2 linked regions of the Homo sapiens genome follow. The protein of the gene in region 1 purifies or fractionates together with the protein of each later gene. This does not show direct contact. Each region holds a gene or a part of one and is shown in the gene's direction. Other genes may lie near its edges.

Region 1 (3,405 bases):
GAGCATCTGGCAGGCAGGGGGGCAGGTACACACACACCCACAGGCACACCCACCAGTACACACGCGTGCGCATACACACATTTTGGTTTGACGCCCTGTTTTCAGTGGCCTGGGGAGGTCCACACTGGAAGTCGAATTCCAGCTCGCCTTGTTGACTCGCCTGTGTCCACCGGCCATGAGGAGCCCACGCCTGTCCTCCCCATCACTTTCCTGTCCCTGAGAACTGTAGATCATGCGCTTGTGAGCGAGGCCCTCCCCTCTGCACCAGCTCATTGCAAAGCGAACATCCTCTCCTTTCCAGGAGCCCCAGGATTAGCATCTGAAAAGGGTAGCACTTCCTTTTTTGTTGTTGTTTTTTTTTTTTTTTTGAGACGGGAGTCTCGCTCTATTGTTCAGACTGGAGTGCAGTGGCATGATCTCGGCTCACTACAACCTCCACCTCCTGGGTTCCAGCGATTCTCCTGCCTCAGCCTCCCAAATAGCTGTGATTACAGGCGTGCACCACCACGCCCGGCTAATGTTTGTATTTTTAGTAGAGACAGGGTTTCACCGTGTTGGTCAGGCTGGTCTCAAACTCCTGACCTCAGGTGATCCGCCCGCCTCAGCCTCCCAAAGTGCTGAGATTACAGGTGTGAGCTACCGCACCCCGCCGAGGTTAGCACTTTCATCACCAAAGACCCCGTGCCTCTCGTGGTCCTTTGAGGGATCCCGCCGCCACCACCCTTGTATTTTATCACGTGCTCTTCAGGGCATGTGGAATTCGTTGAGTTTGCTTTTAGAGCCAAGTTTCTTTCCCTGTGTGGGTTTTTGAGGAAAACCTGAGGTCCCCTAATCTGTGGCCACCACCCCCCCCCCCCGCCACGCCTTAGAGCAGAGCAGCCCCTCCTCTCATTTGGTGCAGAAACAGTCAAGAGGAACCATTGGCCTAGAGCTCCTGTGACCGAGAGCGCCACGGAAGCCTGGGGATGACGTCGGGCAGCTTTATTCTTTGCTTGGCTTTGGTAACTAGGTGGTCCCCTCAAGCATCCTCAGTTCCTCTTGCTGTTTATGAATCTAAGACAAGGAAGTCCTATAGAAGCCAAAGGGACAGGGACGGAAAGGACAGGTCCCAAGGGATGGGGCTGTCTTTACTTGTGGAAACCAGGAAATTGCTCCTCTCAGCCAACCAAGGTTGACCACACACCACCCTTCCGGAGCAGCTCAGTCAGCCCTCGGGGACGAGAAACCACAAGCGCAGAGACGCTGAGGCCCAGGCAGGTGAAGAGGAAGTGGCTTTGGGTTTTTAAAGTAGGTGAGCGTGAGCCTCTCTGACTGCTTCTTCCCCGGGGGGGACTGCAAACCGCTCAGGGTTGCGGCAGAGCCATGGACTTCCGGTCCCTGCAACGGGTGACCTAAGCGTGGTGCACCCATCAGTCACGCAGGAGGACTGACTTGACAGACGAAAGACAAGCCCGGATGACACAGGGTGAGAAGAGTCAGGGCCGCACCTCTGTCCCTGCAAACCAACAGGTGCATGGTGAGTGTGGCAGTCCCCACAGCTCCACAATGGGCTCCCCCGCCAACGGGGACGACAGGGATCTTCAGGAACTTCTGACCTCACCAAGTCAAGTGGACCACTCTCCACTCCACGAGGATGTGAAACGGTTCTTTAAAATGGGATTTTAGAGCCTCGGGAATGCATGTGCGTCACATCTTTCATATTATGGGTCAGGATAGATTCATTTCTTGCAACATAGTGGAAAAGATATAAGCTGCAGTAATTTGCTCTTTGAATGACCGTCACCCCCAGTATAGGATATGCTTGTATCCCCCCGTCACTCCTCCGCCTGTTTTTTAAACTTTTCCACCACCTGCGTCCAAAAAGAATGTTATAGCGAGTGCTCTTAAATGTTGAACCTGGGTGTTGCTTCCGGGCCAGTCTGCGTGGCTCCATGAAAAGCTCACTGCTGCCCCAGCCGGGCTTCTTAGAGGAGGTCAGTTGTCCTATGTATCATCATTTACTCTGGGAATCCTACTGTGAAATCATGTCTGTATTTTTCTGGAGCAGTTCACATAGAGTAGAATGTGGAATTTCCCGTGAACGTCTCCTTCCTCCCCCGTATCTGCCGCCTGTCACTTCGCCACCGTGCTAGAATACTGTTGTGTTGTAAGATGACTAATTTTAAAAGAACCTGCCCTGAAAAGTTCTTAGAAACGCAGTGAAAGGGAGGAACTTGTCCTTTACCCAGTTTTTCCTTTGTAGGATGGGAAAGTATAAAAAGGCACAGAAGGTTGTCATGGGCTGTTCCTTGGGGGTTTTTATCCTGCTCACCGTGGAGATAAGCCTGCGGCTTGTCTAACCAGCGCAGCGCAAAGGTCTCGATGCCTTTTGGTAACATCCGTCATTGCAGAAGAAAGTTTACACGACGTCAAAAAGTGACGTTCATGCTAAGTGTTTTTCCAGAAATATTGGTTTCATGTTTCTTATTGGCTCTGCCTCCTGTGCTTATATCATCCAAAAACTTTTTAAAAAGGTCCAGAATTCTATTTTAACCTGATGTTGAGCACCTTTAAAATGTTCGTATGTGTGTTGCACTAATTCTAAACTTTGGAGGCATTTTGCTGTGTGAGGCCGATCGCCACTGTAAAGGTCCTAGAGTTGCCTGTTTGTCTCTGGAGATGGAATTAAACCAAATAAAGAGCTTCCACTGGAGGCTTGTATTGACCTTGTAACTATATGTTAATCTCGTGTTAAAATAAAATATAACTTGTGGCTCCGTGTCACGGGACTGTTTTGTTGCATGAAGATATGACCCTAGTTGTGGAAGCAGCCTGGTGTCATTGGAAGCCCCCTGGGCTGGGGAGCTGGCCCCTGGGAGGAGCTGGAGACCTAGATAGCTCTCAGTTCCACCCCCATCCACGGTGGAGGGGGAGGCTCTCAGACCGTGGTGACGTGGAATTCGGGCTGATGTAGTGCGAGGATTGCGAGAGGCTGCTTATGGCCAGGAGTATTTTTTGCATGCACATTCAACTGGTTGCTGCTCTAGCTCTTTGGGGACCTCATTGCTTGGGGCTGGGGCAGGAGGAGGTGGTGAAATGAGGGCACACCTGAGTTTCATTATTTATCTGGTATCACCAGTGCTCAAGCCGGTACTCCTGGTGGCGTGGCTGGAATCACTAGTTTCTGTGAAGCTGCAGGCAGTGCGGAGCTGTTTCACGTGGACAACTCGAAAGGGCAGCAGCCTTGTGCCTGGCACTGGCTGGACATGTGCAGTGGGAGGCCCCGTTTCCACAGCCAGCTTTGAAAATTTCACCCTGGCCTTTTGGGGGAAGATAGGATTGGTTTGTGCCCACACTTCTCTGTGTCCCAAGGGTTTTTTTTTTTTTTTTTTTAGCACTGTTTTAGGAAAACAGTTGTCCAGGAAA
Region 2 (3,446 bases), on another chromosome or scaffold:
TCTACTAAAAATACAAAAAAAAAATCCGGGCATGGTGGCGGGTGCCTGTAGTCCCAGCTACTTGGGAGGCTGAGGTGGGAGAATGGCGTGAACCCGGGAGGTGGAGGTTGCAGTGAGCTGAGATCATGCCACTGCACTCCAGCCTGGGCAACAGAGTGAGACTCCGTCTCAAAAAAAAAAAAAAATAGTAGTGGTAGTGTGCTCTTGTAGTCCCAGCTACTCGGGAGGCTGAGACAGAAGGATCACTTGAGCCCAGGAGTTGAGGCTTCAAGGAGTTACCCTGGGTGACAACTGTCTCTTAAAAAACAAAAATTTAAAAAAAAAAAAGTCTGTTGTGAAGAAGCCAGACTTATAGGACAGAATGCGTCATCTAAAAGTGCTGCAAGGAAGCCGGGCATGGTGGCTTATGCCTGTAATCCCAACACTTTGGAAGGCCAAGGCAGGTGGATCACCTGAGGTCAGCAGTTTGAGACCAGCCTGGCCAATATGGTGAAACCCCGTCTCTACTAAATTACAAAAATTAGCCAGGCGTGGTGGCGGGCGCCTGTAATCCCAGCTACTCAGGAGGCTGAGGGAGGAGAATCGCTTGAACCCAGGAGGCATAGGCTGCAGTGAGCAGAGATCGCACCAATGCACACCAGCCGGGGCGACAGAGGGAGACACCATCTCAAAAAAACACACAAAAAAACACAAAACAAACACACACACACACACACACACAGAAGTGTTGCAAGGCTGTGTGGCTCCACGGCTGTTCCATATCTCACCCTCATTTCACAGATGAGGAAATTGAGGTGAAGTGGGGGAGAAGGTTTGTTGGGGTCACACAGCCAGGAGGCAGCTGAGGCAGGACCCTGGGCTCTCAGCATCCTCTCTGGGGAAGCCCTGATTAAGATTCTTTCTCTGCCAGGAACCTGGAGGAGAAGCGGCTCACTTGGAGGCTTCCAGATGTGTCCGAGGCAGGCGGTGAGCTGTGGTTGTGTATGAGGGCTGGGTGGGAGGGACTGGGGTCAGGTGGGAGGCACTTATTTATGTTGGGGAAGAATTGGGGACATACTGAGGGCGGGCAAGTATGGGCATTGAGGAAGTCTTTAAAAGCTGGAGGAGGGCCGGGCTGAGTGGCATAGGTCTGTAATCCCAGTGCTTTGGGAGGCCCAGAATGCAGGATCACTTGAGTCCAGCAGTTGGAGGCTGCAGTGACCCGTGATCGTACCACTGCACTCTAGCCTGGGCAATAGAGCCAGACTCTGACTCAAAAACAAACAAACAAACAAAAAAGGCCAGGTGTGGTGGCTCACGCCTGTAATCCCAGCACTTTGGGAGGCCGAGGTGGGTAGATCACTTGAGGTCAGGAGTTCAAGACCAACCTGGCCAGCATGGTGAAACCCTGTCTCTACTAAAAATATAAAAATTAGCCGCGTGTGGTGGCACGCACCTGTGATCCCAGCTACTTGGGAGGCTGAGGCAGGAGAATCGCTTGAACCCAGTAGGTGAAGGTTGTAGTGAGCCGAGATCGTGCCACTGCACTCCAGCCAGGGTGACAGAGCGAGACTCTGTCTCAAAAAAAAAAAAAAAAAAAAAAAAAAAAAAGCTGGAGGAGGGCCAAGGACAGTGGCATAGGTCTGTAATCCCAGTGCTTTGGGAGGCCCAGGTGGGAGGATCACTTGAGCCCAGGAGTTAGAGGCTGCAGTGACCTATGATTGCACCACTATACTCCAGCCTGGGCAACAGAGCCAGACCCTGTCTCTAAAAAAAAAAAAAAAAAGCTGAAGGAGAGGGCGTCCCAGGGCCAGATGGCCAGACACAGCAGGTGCAAAGGCCCTGAGGCAGGACTCCCTTGCTAGCCATACAAAGCCCAGTGATGCCAGGAGAGACAGATGCAGGGGATCAAAGGGAGGTCTGATGGGGCACATAAAGGCCACAGAACAGAGGGCTTCAGGTGTGGGCCAAAGATGAGCCTGGTTCACAGCTGGGACGGGGGCTGGTGCCAGGGCGCAGCTGACTGCAGGTCTCCCCAGGTTCTGGCCGCCTCTCTGCCAGCTGGGAGCCGCTCTCAGGGCCCAGCACACCCAGCCCCGTGGCTGCACAGTTCACCAGCGAGGGGACCACTCTGTCGGGCGTGGACTTGGAACTGGTGGGCAGCGGTTACCGCATGTCGCTGGTGAAGAGGAGGTTTGCCACAGGTACTCCCCAACCCTGCTGCTGGGTGACCTCAGGAGCCGAGATCTTACAGGGGCAAGCCCCGGGGTGTGGGGAGGGATTGGGGTGTGGGGATCCTTGGGAAAGATAGGTGGGTGTTGGGGCCAGGAGACCCCAGATGGGGGGCACAGGTGGGCAAGGAGGCAGGGCCCTGTGTATCTGGGGCTGGCCCTTGGAGGACGTCCTTGGAAGGACCCCAGCCAGGGAGCCCGAAGTCCCCCCTGCCACCCCCTCCTCCAGCCCCACCCTGTTCTCCTGCCCCCAACAAGGGGCTCCTGGGGCCCAGTGGCAACAGGGACTATGAGTTACAGGGGTGTTTTGAAGAGGACAAGGATGATTGAAGCATCCCAGGGTCAGAGCCGGGGAACCCCTCCCGTACCCCTCCTCCCCACCCCTCCCCCTCACAGCTGCACCCCCACAGGGATGTACCTGGTGAGCTGCTGAACCCGCAAATGCTGCTGCCCCAGCTCTACACTGCGCCCTGGTGCTGGCTGACCACCCCCTGCCCTCCTGCCGGACCCTGGGGCCTCCCACCCCAGCCTCCCTGAGGCCCATACTCCACGGAGAGGAGCCCCATGCCCAGCCTGGCTGAGCCCGAGATTCGCTCCTCCCCCTCATGCCAACCCCACACAGGTCCCGGCCTTTTAATGTTCTTTGAATAAACACTTTATTTTCTAATAAAATAAAAAAGGAAACCTTTTCCTGCTCCAGGAAGTATCCTTTGCGTTGCCAGAGAGGGGAGGAAGAGAAGGTGGATGGATACGAGAGACCTAATGTACCTCCCTCCCTGCACTGCGCTCAACCGGTACAGGGCCATTCTGGGAGAGAAAGAACAACACAGATACCCCAGCCCCATGGGCTCAGAGGTGGGCTATAGGGAGGGAGGAGGACTACAGAAGCCCAGAAAGGGGTGTCAGGAGTCTTCCCAAGCAGTCAGGAAGACTTTCTAAGGAGGGGGCATTATAAATGAGGTTTTGAGGTATGAGTAGGAGTTTGCAAGATAGGAATGGGCATCCCAAGCAAAGTGATGGAAGGTTGTTAGTTCAATGAGGAAGCAATTAGTCAACCTACAAATATTAATTGAGTATCTACTGTATACCATGTAGCAGAGAGAGAGCTATGAGCAGGACAAAGTTCTTGGAACCCAGGAAGTGGAGATAGGAAGCCTGAGTGAGGAGCCTGCTTGGCGGCCACTGGCTGTGTGACTTTAAGCACGGGACTTGAGCCTCAGCTCATCTGCAACTCAC

Evidence for each region.
Region 2: the proteins of FNBP1 (region 1) and FCHO1 fractionate together in Homo sapiens (co-fractionation; one large-scale study listed by BioGRID). This does not show direct contact.

The regions. Positions count from the first base shown.
Region 1 is NC_000009.12:129,886,534-129,889,938, reverse strand, and holds the end of FNBP1 (formin-binding protein 1), read left to right. Parts: 3' UTR 1-2,752; downstream 2,753-3,405. UniProt on the Homo sapiens protein: May act as a link between RND2 signaling and regulation of the actin cytoskeleton. Required to coordinate membrane tubulation with reorganization of the actin cytoskeleton during the late stage of clathrin-mediated endocytosis.
Region 2 is NC_000019.10:17,785,664-17,789,109, forward strand, and holds the end of FCHO1 (F-BAR domain only protein 1), read left to right. Parts: intron 1-910; coding exon 911-966; intron 967-2,018; coding exon 2,019-2,183; intron 2,184-2,606; coding exon of another isoform or gene 2,607-2,620; coding exon 2,621-2,643; coding exon of another isoform or gene 2,644-2,747; 3' UTR 2,748-2,898; downstream 2,899-3,446. UniProt on the Homo sapiens protein: Functions in an early step of clathrin-mediated endocytosis. Has both a membrane binding/bending activity and the ability to recruit proteins essential to the formation of functional clathrin-coated pits.